Linked DNA regions of Homo sapiens: region 2 is linked to region 1. Evidence: fine-mapped expression QTL. Tissue or cell type: blood mononuclear cells. Region 1 holds a variant in brackets; the other region holds the start of a gene. All regions are shown on one strand. Distances are from middle to middle.

Region 1 (8,104 bases):
GGTGGCACAGCCTTATTTACCTTAAAGGGACAGGGACATAAAAAGTTAGAAGGGGATTTCTCTATGGGCCTGGATAAGACAGCACCACCCTGTCCAGTTTACTAGGGGAGGGAGGTGAGAATGGCACTCCTTCTTCCCATGAACAGGGCCTGATCTAGTCACAGAAAAGAAGACTTTTACCTTGGTGGTCTGGCCTGTTCGGAACCGTTCAAACCTACAAGACAGAAAAGACACGAGTTATGGAGACAGACTGAGACAGGCCCCCACACACGGCCAGGCAGAGCTTTTCAAACTGTGGGTCTCAACATCAACACGGTGGGTTATGATCAGGGTGATGACACGTCTGGTGTGCCCTGGACAGATCCAGTTCATGCCTGCTGTCCCTGGGTAACTAGCAGTGCTCCTCTTTCCCTTGCAAAAGTGTCCCAATTTGGATGATCAATTATAAGGCAACCTTAGTCATGAGTAGCATGAAACAAATAAACAGGAATAGGTTAGAACAGCAAAGAAAATAGGAATGCATGGCACGCAGTAAAGGTAAGGACTGTCTTATGAAACTTGTTTCAATTACATATTTGTGTGTGTGTATGTGTGTGTGTGTGTGTGTGTTAGTGCTCTCTTCAGTGCTGTAAGAAAGATACATGTATCTCTAATCTTGTTTTATGGAGCTACTTAGGGGCCGGTGTGATAGATCGAGAAGACTTTAGTGTGGGGTCTGTTCAAGTCGTGGCCTTGTCACTTATCACATGACCTCGGGTAAATTATGTTCCTTCTGAACTTTAGTCTGCTTGTCTAGTATCTGTAGGCACCTGCCTCCCTGAAGTGCTGAAGCCCAAATTAGGACATGGGTATAAGTGACTGCGAGCTTGAAAGCACAGTCAGATATTAAGCCTAATGACTGTGGATATCTGAGGGTACCAGCTGCTACCAGATGGGGCCCCTCAGTCACCTCACAGCCCATACCCCAAAATGGCAGGGAAGAGGCCTTTCATTCCACTGGGCCAACGAGCAGGAGAAGCTAGGCAGACGTGACCTGCAGGGTACCCCCCACTTTCCACTGATTTAGAATCAATCAGTGAGTGTCTTTTGATGGAGAAAGACACAAAAAATGAACAAGGGGCTGGAGGAGGCTGGAATAACTCATGTCAGTTATCAGACACCCTGGACTGCTAAGCGCTTTACAGACACTGTTTCATGGACTCTCACTTATGCCACAAGCCTCATTTTACAGATACAGAGGAGGTGTGATGGGCACACAATTTCTGCAGACCCAGCAATCCTTCTCCTTCTCTTTCCTTTTTTTTTTTGAGATGGAGTCTTGCTCTGTCGCCTAGGCTGGAGTGCAGTGGTGCGATCTCGGCTCATTGCAACCTCTGCCTCCTGGGTTCAAGCAATTCTCCTGCCTCAGCCTCCCAAGTAAGCTGGGATTACAGGCACCCACCACCACCTCCGGCTAATTTTTTTGTATTTTTTAGTAGAGACGGGGTTTCACCATGTTGGCCTGGCTGGTTGCAAACTCCTGGCCTCAAGTGATCCTCCCGGCTCAGCCTCCCAAAGTGCTAGGATTACAGGTGTGAGCCACTGCGCCCAGCCCTTCTCCTTCTTTTGTAATAGCACCTAAGTACTCTTTAGAGGAACTGCTCCTCCCCCATTTCACATCATCCCGGTGGGGCTGCCATCAAAGGGCCCTCTCCCATACCCCAGCTGGTAGGCACAATGAAGCTCAGCCAATCCAAGTCTCTCTTGGGGATGTGACTCTTGAACAGAATGATACAAGGTGGGCAGGTGGGTGTGGTGGCTCATGCCTGTAATACCAATGCTTTCGGAGGCCAAGGAGGGAGGACTGCTTGAGGCCAAGAGTTTGAGACTAGCCTGGGCAACACAGTGAGACCCCTGTCTCTGCAAAAAGAAAAAAAAAAAAAGAAAAGAAAATTAGCTGGGTGTGGTGGTGCATGCCTGTAGTCCCGGCTACCTGGCAGGCTGAGGTGGGAGGACTGCTTGAGCCCAGGAGGTTGAGGCTGCAGTGAGCTGTGATCATGCCACTATACTCCAGCCTGGGTGACAGAGCAAGATCGTGCCTCAAAAAAAAAAAAAAAAAAAAGGTGGACAGGTGTTTGTGGACAAGTGTTTGAGCTGATGTATTTATTGATGGCAGCACCCTGGGGAGATGGTCCAGGAATTTCTGCTCCTGAGACATCTGAGCTGCCCTGGGATCCATCTTTCTTGTTCTGTTGGGAGACATCAGTTTCACTTTTCTCTGGATTCTGAAAGCTACCCATTTAATAAAGATTATTATCCTAACAAATTCTTTTTCTGCCTAAGTTAGCCAGAAATGTTTTGTGTAGCTTGCAGCAGTGAAGTCACTTGTCTAAGGCCCCAGAACCAGGAAGTGGTGGAGTGGGCGAGGACACACCAGGCCAGTCTGGTTGCAGGGCCGTGCTCTCAGCTGTGACCTGTGACCATCTCCCAGGGCTGGACTTGGGCACAGGCAGCAGCGCTAACCCTGGAAAGGAGATACAGGGCGGCTGGAAGGAGGGGCCCTCATAAACATCCTGGAAGAAGACAGCTGAGGGCACAGGCCCTTAGGAGCCTGCCTTGTGTTTGAGAGGAGGACGAGAGAAGGCTCAGATGGCATGAGACCAGGAGAACAGGGAGGAAGGGAAGGGAGAGGGTTGGGGCAGTAGGCCAGAGGCCAGGGGAGGTGCTGGGGCTACCGTTCATGGCGCAGGAACACATTGTTGAGATTGTCATTGACGATGAGCAGCTCCTCTGTCAGCTGCTCATTGGCGATCTGAGGGATGAGCTCCAGGACCCGCTGCTGCATGGCTCGGCACGTGCGGTTGAGCTCCTGCCAGGAAAGGAAGTGAGGCAACCACAGTCACATGACTCAGAGTGAGGCCGTCTCTTTTTTTTTTTGTGAGACGGAGCTCTGTCGCCCAGGCTGGAGTGCAGTGGTGCGATCTTGGCTCACTGCAAGCTGTGTCCTGGGTTCATGCCATTCTCCTGCCTCAGCCTCCCAAGTAGCTGGGACTACAGGCGTCTGCCACCACGCCTGGCTAATTTTTTTTTTTGTAGTTTTAGTAGAGACGGGGTTTCGCCATATTAGCCAGGGTGGTCTCGATCTCCTGACCTCACGATCTGCCTGCCTCGGCCTCCCAAAGTGCTGGGATTACAGGCGTGAGCCACCGCGCCTGGCCAAGTGAGGCCATCTCTAATGCACGGGCCTCCAGCCCCTGCACAAGCCTTGGAGGAGGGTGAGGTGCCCAAACTGGACTTCAAGGTTCCACGGAACAGCTTTTTGGGTTCTACAAACATGAACTTGAACTTCACTTCCAAGTGTTAGATGCTAAAATTTAATCCACAGGAAACCATCAACATGTCCAACTGTGCTGCCGGTTTAACTTGGCTTCGTGCAGATTCCAGAATAAAGGTTGTGCCACCATCTTTGCTTAGTCAAAAAAAAACTGAGTCTGCAAAGGGGGCTGGCTGAACAAACCACAACTTCTGGGGGTATGCTGTGATTTTTGCAACCAAAGCATACAGAATGAACTAGATGACTGCAACCATTAGCCACAAACCTCGATTTCGAGTTTTTGCCTCACTTTTCTCACTGCCTGATTTTTTGTCTTTTTAAACAAACTTTTAGCTTTGGAATAATTTTAGATTTACAGAAGAGATGCAAAGATAGTACCACAAGTTCCCATATACCCTTGACCCTGGCTTCCCCTTAGTCTGGCATTTGTCAAAACTGGTAAACTACCATTAAACATTAAAACTGGTAAAATACTATTAACTAAACTGCGGACTTTATTCAGGTTTCACTAGTTTTTCCTCTAATGTCCTTTGTTTGTTCTAGGATCCTACACTGCATTTAGTTATCACGTCACCGACTTTTAACCACTAGGTGTCATATTTAAACTTATGAAAAATAAAAAAAATGGCTACACCCGGTGGCTCGTGCCTATAATCCCAGCACTTGGGGAGGCCGAGGCGGGTGGATCACCTGAGGTCAGGAGTTCAAGACCAGCCTGGCCAACAAGGTGAAACCCTGTGTCTACTAATAATACAAAAATTAGCCGGGCATGGTGGTGTATGCCTATAATCCCAGCTGCTTGGAAGGCTGAGGCAGGAGAATAGCTTGAACCCAAGAGGCAGAGGCTGCGGTGAGCCGAGATCGCGCCACTGCACTCCAGCCTGGGTGACAGAGCAAGACTCCGTCTCAAAAAAAATAAAAAAATAAAAAACCATAGCCATATGGGTTTTCATTTTTAAGATTGGTCAATTATTTCTTCAGGTACCTGCCACCAGGTGAAGGTTCCTGGGTCACGGCAGGTGCCTGGGTCCTGAGGTCCAGGGAGCTGCCCGGCATTGCCGACTGTGGCCTCACGCCAGCACGCCTTTCTCCTGGAGGCAACGCTGAGGCTCGGCACTGCCCAGTGTTTATTTTGGCTGTCATGTGGACCCTGTCCCCTGCCCCCTCCAAGGTCAGGCCTCCGGGATTTCCTCATCGCCCTTAGCACGGGGACAG[G/T]GCGGGTGCCTTTCAACATCCTGTGGGCTCCCCTCCTGCTCTTATGACCAAGCACACGGTGGCTTTGCTTCTGCTTCCCTGCTGGCCCCTCTCAAGAGCAGAAGAGCAGCACTTGGAGCCAGGCCCCCGGGTTCAAATCGCAGCTCTGCTACTTACCAGCCATATAACCCTGGACGTGTTATCTGATCTCCCTATGCCTATTTCCTGACCTGGAAAATGGGGGTGGTCAGGATTACGTGAGCGATGTGAACCAAGTGTCCACATATAGCCCGGGACACGGGAAGTGCCCAGTGCATGGGAGCTGTCCCTGCATCCACCTTGCTCAGCCTTCTGAGTCCCCAGACTGCTCACATCTCATGGCCTTGGCTTGGGGCGTGCGAGGCTGCCTGCGCAGTCTTCTCTCTTTCGGAGCCCTTACTGGGTTTCAAGTTTGTGTATTCACTGGACTCTGAGGCTACTCCTTTTCTCCCCACCCTGCACCACCAAGTGAGGACCCCTGCAGAGTCAGCTCGGTCAGGCACACAGACACGGTGGCGAGGAAGACACAGCGCTGCCCTCAAGGAGCCTGAGGCCTGGTGGACGAGCAGTAGGAACTCGAACAGTTACACGAAGCGCTCTGTCTCCTCATGGATTCTGGTGACTCCTGGGCCTTGGGGATTCCTAGCTCTCTTGGTGCCTCTATGACTGGCCTCCATGGGGAGGGTGCTTTTTGCCAAATTCAGTGTCCCTTCTGCTCCAGTGACCCCCAATCTGGGCTGGGGCCGTGGGAATACCATGTGACACCCGGGAGCAGGAACCACTAGCTCCACCTGCCTTGGCTCCCCAAGATCAGTGGCTGGCGCATCTCAAGGCTGGCACCACCCTCTCACACCTGCCTGCTGAGTCTCGGATTCTGAATGGTGTAAATCTCACCTTCCAGCTTTTTCTCAGGACCCCTTACTGGGTGCTTTACTCTGTACCAGGCACAAGCCTGCGTGTTTTTCATGCAATACCTTATTTAACTCACATCAAACTTGTGCCATGAAGGCTATTGTTAGAGCAATCTTACAGATGAGGAAACTGAGGCCAGGGGGGCTACTTTGTTCAAACCAGAAAGTGGTAGAGCTGCGATCTGATTCCAATCTGATGGCGTCCAAAGTCCCTGGTGGTAACATGTCCCCAACTGTGACCAAGGAGTATGGAGTAAGCCATGAAGACTGTCATGAGGATTGGGAAAGAATGCATGTGGGCAGCTGGGCAGGAGTCATCTGAGCCCCAGGGGGTGGTGCCACCTGCTCACCTGCAGCAGCTCCAGGTCTGCGGGCTCGGCCTGGGTGGGCACCAGCTCCGTCAGCATCTCCGACATCACCCTCACGTTCCCACTCACCATCTCCAGCTCACTGCGCAGCTTCCCAATCTGAAACACACAGTTGATCGTGGTGAGAGAAGCCAGGGTTCTGGGGCCCATGTTACTCACAGCGACAGAACCCAGTACCACCAACCCTGGGTGCAGCACCAGGGAGCCGACCTCCCAGCAGCCTCTCTAGGCAGCCTCCCTCCTGGCTCCCAAAGTGACAGCTCTGCACTAGAGGCCTGCCCCACCCCTTCTACAGACCCCTCACAGAGGCGCTACCAACCGTTACCATCTCCACACCGGAATGAGCCACCACGTGTGGCTGGAAGACTCCAGCATCTCCTGGGTCTAACACAGCAGCTAACAAGGCCCTGGAGGGTGGCTCCCCACAAGGCGGGGAGGGACGCTGCAGGCCCTCTCTCTCTCTCCCACTAGAGGACTGGGATTCTGCCCTCTCTCTCTCCTCCTAGAGGACTGGGATTCCGCCCTCTCTCCTAGAAGACTGGGATCCCCCCCTCTCTCTCCTCCTAGAGGACTGGGATCCCACCCTCTCTCCTCCTAGAGGACTGGGATCCCGCCGTCTCTCTCCTCCTAGAGGACTGGGATCCCGCCCTCTCTCCTCCTAGAGGACTGGGATTCCGTCCTCTCTCTCTCCTCCTAGAGGACTGGGATTCCACCCTCTCTCTCCTCCTAGTGGACTGGGCTTCTGCCCTCTTTCTCCTCCTAGTGGACTGGGATTTTGTCCTGTTTCTGGTCTATTTTGGTGTCCCAGGCTCATCTAAGGATAGTCCTTGCCCTGTACCCCACCTTGAATATGAAACTCAGATTTAGCACTTGTTCCAAGGGATGTGGGCAGGTTTTCAATGGTCAAAGGGTTCCAAGGAGTTGGGCTTGGGGAAACATTTTCAATAAAGCTGCAGTCTCCTCAAAGAGGTTAGCTTGTGAAAGGCCATTGGTATAAGGATCTTATGCTGTGGGACCTTGTAGGGTGTTTAATGCCCTCATGCACACTGGGAATGCCTGGGAAAAGATCAGTCTGAAAGCTTCTAAGATTTATTTGACTGAAGAACCTTTTTATGTTTTGAGAAATGCTGGTACATTCTAAATCATGTGGCTGAGTTATAGTTGATTTCAGAGTGTCACTATATACATTCATGATTGTGACAGCAGCTACCATTTATAGACTACCTAATAAGTGCCAAGCATTGAACATATATTGCTAACTTAATTTTTTACCATGGTAGACATCAATATCCCTGCTTTTATAGATGAAGAAATGGAGTGTAGAGACTAGTAGTATATCCACTATGGTTCACTGACACCTTCCAAAACCTGCAAAATGTTTGATCTATTTGGCTTACTTAATGAACACTCTTGGTATGAGTGAGTGGAAAAACTACTGATCACAAACCCCATGTATCCAAATCAGATGGGACTTAATTACAGAGGAGTCTGGGAGTAACATCACTGCACACCTGATGTCTTAACATGTCCCAAGAGACAAAAGGGGACTCTCGAATTAAACAAAGATTAGTTTTGTTTAGCAAGCACCTTCTTGCATTGGAAGTAATTAGCGTCTTAATCCACACAGATGCTAGACTTCAGAAAATTGGTTAAAATCATAACTGAGTTAGACAATCACAAGGTGGTTTTACAATTTTTTACACACCTTTAACCCACTCAGAAAAAAAAAGTGCAGCTCGCTGTCAGCACTCATTTAATTTTACATAAACATGCTCTTTGAGGCTGAAGTAAACCTGACTGATTTTCAACATGAAAATAAAACATAAAAACTGTTCTTGGAGTTATTTCTAAACAGAACTTGTCTCCAATCCTAACGTAACAGAAATGTATATGAGGTTACATTAGGATTAGAGACAAGAGTATTCTTGGGGCAAACGGGCAGTGCGTTAATAATTTTGTCCAGTTAGCAAAATTTTCTAGTAATATCTGTAACTCTGAGGGGTGATTTCATAACTTGCTATGAGAAAACAAATCATGGAAGTTTCTCTTCAAATAGGTTAGGGTGAGAATGAGTTCAAATGATACAAAAAGTGGGCAGTGGGGACGCTTATTGGGAAAGTTAAGCTTCACTTTTCTTTCCATCACACATCCGTGTCTAACTCACCAGCACACTCAGCAGCTCCACCTTTACGCTCCGCGGATGTGATGGGCCTGATGTGTGTACAACACCTTTAACGTGGGTGTCTCCACAGTGTGCAGGCCTCTGCCCCCACCCCAGC
Region 2 (8,104 bases), 29 kb after region 1:
TGGGCAGCTCGAGGCAGTGTGGTGAGGGTACAAAAGAAGACCTGGGTCTGGATTCTGACCTTGAGTGGCTGTGGAACCCTGGAAAGCGATGCTTTCTCTTAGACTGACTTTTGGTGAAATGGGAAAAAAATAGCAAAACCGCACAGGGTCACCATGAGATTAATACCCAGGACGCTAGCAGAATACCTGGCAGAGTTATTATGGTGTTTGCTCACAAAATGTTACTTTCCTTTTCTCCCTTCCTCCTTCCTGCTATGTGCCAGGCACCGTGCTAGGTGCTGAGGGTCTGGAGAAATAAGGCACAGTTCCTGCTCTCAAGAGGTTCAGCCTAGCTGTGGAGACAGACATGCACAACCACTAACAGAGTGGGACGGTGGCATATTAGTATAATGAGGGTAGAAATAATAAAAATAAGCCAAGCGTGGTGGCTCACACCTGCAATCCCAGCACTTTGGGAGGCTAAGGTGGCTGGATCACTTGAGGTCAGGAGTTCAAGACCAGCTTGGCTAACATGGTGAAACCCCATCTCTACTAAAAATACAAAAATTAGCCGGGCATGGTGGTGTGCACCTCTAATCCCAGCTACTCGGGAGGCTGAGGCAGGAGAATCACTTGAACCTGGGGGGCAGAGGTTGCAGTGAGCTGAGGCTGTGCCACTGCATTCCAGCCTTTTTTGAGACTCTGTCTCAAAAAAAAAAAAAAAAAAGAAATAATAAAAATGATGATGGTGATGATGACAGGAAGAGCTAATGTTTCCATACACTCACACTGTGCGAGACACTCTCAGAGGACTATCTTGTTTCATTCCAGCAACCACCCTGTGAGGCAGATGCTGTTAGTAACATTCTACCAAGGAGGAAGCGGAGATTCAGAGCCCAAAGTCATAGGGCAAGGGGGCCTGAGGATCTAGGATAAAGGGAGAGTAAAAGAGCAACGTCGGGCTTGGGGCAAGCCTCAGGGAGGAGGTGATGATGCCCTGTACTTTGAAGGGTGATCTGGAGCTCCTCAGTGGGGGCACAGGAGCAAGCAACCCAGGCAGAGGGACCAGCAAGCACAAAGGGGTGTGTGTGTGTGTGTGTTGGGAGGGGAGGTGGATGAGAACTTTGTGATTCCAGTGACTGACACTCATTCCTGATTAGCATCATTAGAATCACCATCTGAGGGATGTCAATTCCATATGGCTCTACAGCTCTACTATCAACAAGGGCATGGGAGTCGGCAGGCTTGAGAAGAGATGGTACTCCTGCAGCAAGGAGGGGCCTGGTTTACAGAATTATAAGCAGCTATACTGTGTCATCAGTAATCACAGCCAGGGAGCAGTACTTCCTCCGCCTCTTTATCTAAAAGAATATGGAATACTGAGGGGATTAACTCAAACTCTTAATTCTACTTTTGGAGCCTCTTCAGCTTTGGTTTAAATTTCAATGACTCAGTTTTGCTGTCAATTTACTGGGGTCTTGGATGAGTCACAGCCTCCACTTTCCCCTCTCTGGACCTTAGTCTCCGCCAGTGTAAAATGAAGGGGATGGGCTGGAACAGCATTAGCATTACCCGGGAACTCAACAGAAATTCACATTCTAGGCCGGACACGGTGGTCATGCCTGTAATCCCAGTACTTTGGGAGGCTGAGGTGGGTGGGTCACCTGTTCAGGTTTGAGACCAGCCTGGCCAACATGGAGAAACCCCATCTCTATTAAAAATACAAAATTAGTCGGGTGTGGCGGAGCGTGCCTGTAATCCCGGCTACCTTGGGAGGCTGAGGCAGGAGAATCGCTTGAACCCGGGAGGCGGAAGTTGCAGTGAGCCAAGATGGTGCCATTGCACCCCAGCCTGGGCAACAAGAGCGAAACGCAGTCTCAAAAAAAAAAAAAAAAAAAAAAGAAAAAGAAAAAGAAAAAGAAAAAAAAAGAAATTCACATTCTAGAGTCCCACCGCAGACCTGGAGAGTCAGAAACTCTGGGGTTGGGGCCCCGACATTATTTAACAAGCCCTCCTAGGAATTCTGATGAGAACCACTGGGTTAGAAGATCCCCAAGGTAAGGCTCTTTTACCTGCAAAATTCCATTTGTGCTTTAAGGTATTATGATTTAGTAGCATTCTCTTTGCACAGAAGTATTTCTTGCCCAAGAAAGGCAACGCTTCAAGGTAAGAAGAGAAGTTTGCTTTGATTAGCTGAAATCCAGAACCCAGGTGAGCTTTTCCAGAAAGCCTTAAGAGTATGTGGCTGACTTTGAAGCCAGGTCTTTTATTTACTTGTTTATTTTTAAGTAGTAAGTCTTAAACTTGGCATGTGATAAAAGCAGTGGTTTCTGTAGTCAGAGAAATATAGATGAGAGGAGAGCTGCCTTCTCTTTTCAGCTCCAAAAAACCATGACTCACTGTGGGGTGGGTGTGTGTCCGGGGAGGGCAGGGGTCCTTTGAGAGGGCAGTTCCTCTCCCTGGTTCAGGAGCTTCCTGGTGTGTAAATCCTGGACTGCCACCTCCCCCTTGGAGAGCATTGATTACAAAACCTCGGAAGAGCCACCGACAGCCACGGTGGCGATTACAACACAGAGCCGGGTCGACAAGCTTTCGTGAGGTTTCGCAAGACACTAAGAATGGAAAATATGTCTCATCTTAAAGTTTTCCCAGTCTGGACTTAAGACGAAAAGTCGTCATCAAAAAAGATGAAGAGTAATTTCACGGTAATGCGATGGTTTCTTCATGCAAGAATGCGGAACACCCAAACCATCCTCCGGAGAAGTGTGGCTGTTTGGGTGAAGGCATGTCGGTTCTCATGGTGTTGGTGCCCAAGAATGAGCACCTATGAGATCTACTGCCAAGCGATTTCCAGGGATTCCTAACCTTCACTTGGTGATCTCAGGAACAACGTGTGTGTGTAAATACATATAATATATATGTATGTGTATGTATATGTATGTTTGTATGTGTATATTTTTATATATATGTGTGCGTGTGTGTGTGTGTATGTGTATGTGTTTCAAGAGATGGGCTCTCCCTGCGTCGTCCAGGCTGGAGTACAGTGGCGCCATCAGGGCTCACTGCAGCCCTGACCTCCCAGATCCAATAAATCCTCCCAGCTCTGCCTACCGAGTGGCTGGGTGCACAGGCACGCACCACCACGCCCGGCTAATTTCTGTATTTTTTTTTTTTTTTTTTTTTGTAGAGACGGGGTCTCGCCATGTTGCCCAGGCTGGTCTCGAACTCCTGGGCTCAAGCGATCTGCCCGCCTTGGCCTCCCAAAGTGCTGGGATTACAGGCGGGAGCCACCGTGCCCAGCCCAGTGATAATAAATATTACAACTGTTTTTTTTTATATGGCACTGGCCATGTACCAGGCATTGTTCTAAGTATTTCACATTTATTAAGGAATTTAATCTTCACAACAAGCCCACGGAGGTGGGGACCATTATTGCCCGCCAACTACAGGTGAGGAAACCTCGGCCCAGGGAGGCTGCGTCACAGAACTGTGAGTATCCTGTCACCAGGGTGCAGAGAACCACGGACCAGCAGACAGGCGCCAGGTGCCCTGGGCTTGGCTTGGCCCGAGTTCCCGGCTGCCCCACCTACGGAGCACCGAGATGGGCTGACCAGGAGGGTTTGTCCGACCACTGTCTGCTCAGGTTCTGAGAGTCTGTGCGGGTCCATTTGAGGTTGGGTCGAGAAAAGAGCCCAGGCGGACACGTCCTGAGACCCGGGTCTGTGAGGCCTGGCCGCGGGCTGTCCGGCGCTGGGCCCCTCTGGCCAGTTGGCCCCAAGACGCCAAGCCCGGGGCTTCGCGGTCCTGGGAGAAGGGACTTCTAGCCCTTCTCAGGTGTCTGTGTCCGGAGGGCCCGGTGAGCCAGGAAGGAGCTGGCCAGAGCCCAGGCGGCGGGACCCAGCAGAGTGGCCCAGCCACTGCCAACCACGCAGTCCCTTTAACCACGAAAACTTTCTCCCTCGATTGGGGACCCCAGCAGACGCACATTGGCTGCGCCGTGGGCATCCGGACCCACCCTCTCTCCTTACCTACTGGCTGTCATATACATCTATCACAAGCCAAGGCTTCCTAATGGCCCAAGTTCTTGTCAATCAAGAGTGGGAGGAAAGCTGGGCGGAGCCAGGTCGGAGAGCTACACGCCAGCCTCCTTGCCCTCCCTGCCTCCGTGACTAGGCACCCGGAGGCTTCCCAGGGGACCGAAGCTGGGTGCGGAGCACCGGGGCGGAGCTGTGGGGGGCTCCAGGGACTCACCGATGCGCTGTCCCACTGGAGAGCTGAACGGGTTCCCCAGGAGAAAGTCCATTGCTGCTACCGCCGCTGCCACCAACCCCGGGAATCAGCTGACAGCAACCGCCAGCGCCACCGACCCGTCACGTGACGCACTCGGAGGCCGGCGAGGAGGCGTGGGCGGGGCGGTGGCACCGCGAAGCTCGACCACAAGCCCCGCCCTGAGACGCCAGGGTCCCGCCCCCGAGGCGGAGGGCGATGACCTCACTGCGGCTTGCTCGGCGGCGGCGGGCGTCACACACGATGTAGGGTCTGGGGTCGGGGCCCGGGAAGCGCGGTCCTCTTTAAGCCACGCCCCTGACCTTTTAGGGCGAGGTCTAAAGGACCCTTTACACATTTGGGAAACTGGGTCGTAGACCAGGGAAGTGACTTGGGTGAGTTACACAGAAGCCGAGACTCTTAGGGTCATAGCCCTTAGTCCTTGGGACCTCACTGTGACTGCACACCTACCCTGGGTGACAGCCTCTCTGGGCTGTTGTCTCCTTGTCCCGGTAAGACTCTTCCTGTTTGATGTCAAGGTCTCCCCGCTCCAAGATGCACCCTGCTCGCAGCCCAAATTATCTTACCTTAAATCAGAGGCAAGGGCAAGGGGTTTGTCATCTGTTGAGACTGAGAGGCAATTTAATGAATTGCAGCGCAATTCCCTCTAGCGCCCAGGATGGCAAAAAGCACAGATGTAGTCACGAGTGGGGCTTTAATACCCGTCTCTGCCATAAATTTACTGTGTGAGCCAAACATAGCTCCCATTTTCTCTAGATACTGGAATTAGATCAAGGACTCGTAACCATTTTTAAAAAATATTTTATTTAGGTCACAGTCTCCTTTGAGAATTTGACAAAAGCCATGAGCCTTTCTGAAGAAAAAAGGCAGCGATACAATTTTGCTTATAACCTCAGGGAGTTTCTGGGGTCCCTGAAGTACAACCGTGGACCCCAAGCTAAGAATCTCAAAGGCCTTTCCCAGCGTTGTGATTCTAATCTCTTCAGCCTTCCTGGCTGTGTGTGGTGTGTCTGCTGACACCTACACACTAGATACCTATCTATGGGTTATGACCTTTTCTTCTGGCATGTACTCCAAAAATACAATAACCATGGCCTTAGTAGTCTGGCTACTGTGGGTGCTTAAGTACTTATTGTGATGTTTGTGGTTTTTAAATCTGAAAGGCTAGTAAATTGACTGCACAAATTTTGGATGACAGAAAACCTAAATTAAGCAAGGTGTGGTGGCTCACGCCTGTAATCCCAACATTTTGGGAGGCTGAGGCAGGTGGATCACCTGAGGTCAGGCATTCAAAACAAGCCTAGCCAACATGGTAAAATGCCGTCTCTACTAAAAATACAAAAATTAGCCAGGTGTGGTGGTACACGCCTGTAGTCCCAGCTACTTGGGAGGCTGAGGCATGAGAATTGCTTGGACCCAGGGGGGCAGAGATTGCAGTGAGCTGAGATCGTGCCACTGCACTCCAGCCTGGGTGACAGAGTAAGGCTGTGTCTTAAAAAAAAAAACAAACCTAAATTAGAACTTAATCACCTCTGTAGATTCACTTGTTTGAGCAGCCATGGGGTCCGATGTCTTTACTGTACAATATAAAAACTGCTTTGAAGTGTTTCCACAACACTCATGAGACCTGTTCACAAATGCCTTTGCCCCCACGAGTCTGGATGTCCCTGGGGGCTGGGCTACTATTTCTGTTTTGCTCCCCACTATTGTCTAACCCAGTAACTAGCACATGAAAGCTTAAATAGATCTACGTTTCAGTAATGGTATTTGGAGTATAAGCGGGGAGAAGGCCATTTAAGATGACCTTCAGGTCAAGGCACTTTCCATGTCTTTCTTCACTTAACCTTATTGCTTGGTCATATGGAGTTATGTTTAGCATGAACTTCTTTTGGATTCTTCCATTAACCTTTATTTATTTATTTTTAGAGGCAAAGTCTCACTATGTTGCCCAGGCTGGTCCTTGAACTTCTGAGCTCAAGTGATCCTCCCACCTCAGCCTCCCAAAGCCCTGGGTTACAGGCATGAGCCACCATCTCTGGCCCTTCCTTTAAGCTTTTAACAAGTTCTTGTAAACTTTATTCATGGTAAAAAAAAAAAAAAAAAAAAACAAAAAAAAACAAAAACAGAGACAACTCATATGCCCCCAAACAGGAAGTGGAATCATAAACTCCATGCAGGCTGGGCACGGTGGCTCACACCTGTAATCACAGCACTTTGGGAGACCCAGGCAGGCAGATCACGAAGTCAGGAGATCAAGACCATCCTGGCTAACACGGTGAAACCCCATCTCTACTAAAAAAATAGAAAAAATTAGCTGGGCGTGGTGGTGGGCGCCGTGGTGGGCGCCTGTAGTCCCAGCTACTCGGGAGGCTGAGGCAGGAGAATGGCGTGAACCTGGTAGGCGGAGCTTGCAGTGAGCAGAGATTGCACCACTGCACTCCAGCCTGGGAGACAGAGCGAGACTCCGTCTCAAAAAAAAAAAGAAAAACAACTCCATGCAAACTGATTACTATATAGCTATTGAAACAGAAATGGAAGTATATGGATTTATTTATTTATTTATTTTTAAAGACAGAGTCTCTGTCACCCAGGCTGGCGTACAGTGGTACAACTGTAGCTCACCGTAGCCCTGATCTCCTGGGCTCAAGTGTCTTCCCACTTCAGCCTCTTGAGTAGGTGGGACTGCAGATGCATGCCACCATACCTGGCTAATATCTTTTAGTTTTTGTAGAGATGGGGTTTTGCTATATTCTCCAGGCTGGTCTCAAACACCTGGCCACAAATGATCCTCCTGACTTAGTCTCCCAAAGTGCTGGGATTACAGACACGAGCCACTGCACCTGGCCAGTATATGGATTTTATCAACATAGTAGATAGGGATGTAAATGGCAAACATTAAAGTTAGTACAAAACTGATTAAAACTGTCTTTAAAAAGTGTGCTAATAAGGAGCAAACTGATTTAGTAAAAAGTGTTTCAATTTACTTTTTAAGTGTTTTAGTAAAATTAATATCATGCCTTACTGAGGGTTAAAATGTTCAAATTTCTTAAGATTGACAGTCTGCATAAATGTAATCTATTAAATCCTTTAAGTGCTTACAGACAAAAATCAAGATACCTTGCCTTCAAAATTTAAAGACAATAGTATGACAAGAGTGAAAGCCAGCTAGATACCCGAACAATGCAAAGATCTGAGACAGCATTCCCACAATCACATTCGCTCAGGACTTGAGATAATGGAAAGCATTCTGATGAATTATAGACATGATTTAAATCTGAAAGTAGCTTGGGGTAGAAAAGAGCCTAGGGTTTGGGGTCAGCTGTTTCACTGTTCTTAATCTGCCTTTGCCATTTACTAGCAGTATAAACTTAGGAAAAGTACTTTTTCGCATCTATAAAGGGAGATAATATTCTTAAGGCTTTGGGCGGAGGATGAGTGAGACAAAGTATGCAAATCACTCTAATAGTCACTCAGTGATACGGTAGTCTCTTCCTTGCTGCCTTTCCATAAGACATTAGCCTTGTAATTAATCATATTATTTTACTATTTATGACTTTTAACACCTTGTGTTTGCACTGAAGTTTTTACCTTGAAAGGTCATATCTCCATATATTCAGTGTTCATAATGTTATTAAACATTCATGTCAGGCTGGCTGGCTGCAGGTCTACAGACAGGGAAGTGACTTTAACACTATTCTATAGATGGGACTTTGGAAGCCTATAAAGATTAAGTAACTTATCAACAGCATTACTGTAATGCTAACAGGACAGTACTGAAACATATCATTTAGCACATGATTCAGATGCAACCCTTATATAAGATTAATCAACATTTTCT

The links. PIP is the estimated chance that this variant, and not a neighbour inherited with it, causes the effect.
Region 2: it holds the start of TOM1, and the variant in region 1 is fine-mapped to the expression of TOM1 in blood mononuclear cells (TOPMed, PIP above 0.99). The same link has a PIP of 0.9 or more in monocytes, monocytes after interferon gamma, non-classical monocytes, spleen and whole blood.

The regions. Positions count from the first base shown.
Region 1 is chr22:35,325,091-35,333,194 of GRCh38, reverse strand. It overlaps TOM1 (target of myb1 membrane trafficking protein), which reads right to left. Exons shown (of 15, transcript NM_005488.3): 7 at 5,808-5,924; 8 at 2,715-2,848; 9 at 181-214. Among named protein-coding and RNA genes, the nearest start is that of MIR3909, 6.5 kb to the left of the region's middle. RefSeq lists enhancers at 2,335-2,835, 4,325-4,619. The variant G/T (reference allele first, on the strand shown) is at 4,529.
Region 2 is chr22:35,296,107-35,304,210 of GRCh38, reverse strand. It overlaps TOM1 (target of myb1 membrane trafficking protein), which reads right to left and starts at 4,317. Exons shown (of 15, transcript NM_005488.3): 1 at 4,231-4,317. The coding sequence starts at 4,282. RefSeq lists enhancers at 2,652-3,173, 3,584-3,743, 3,697-4,219, 4,144-4,293, 4,220-4,742.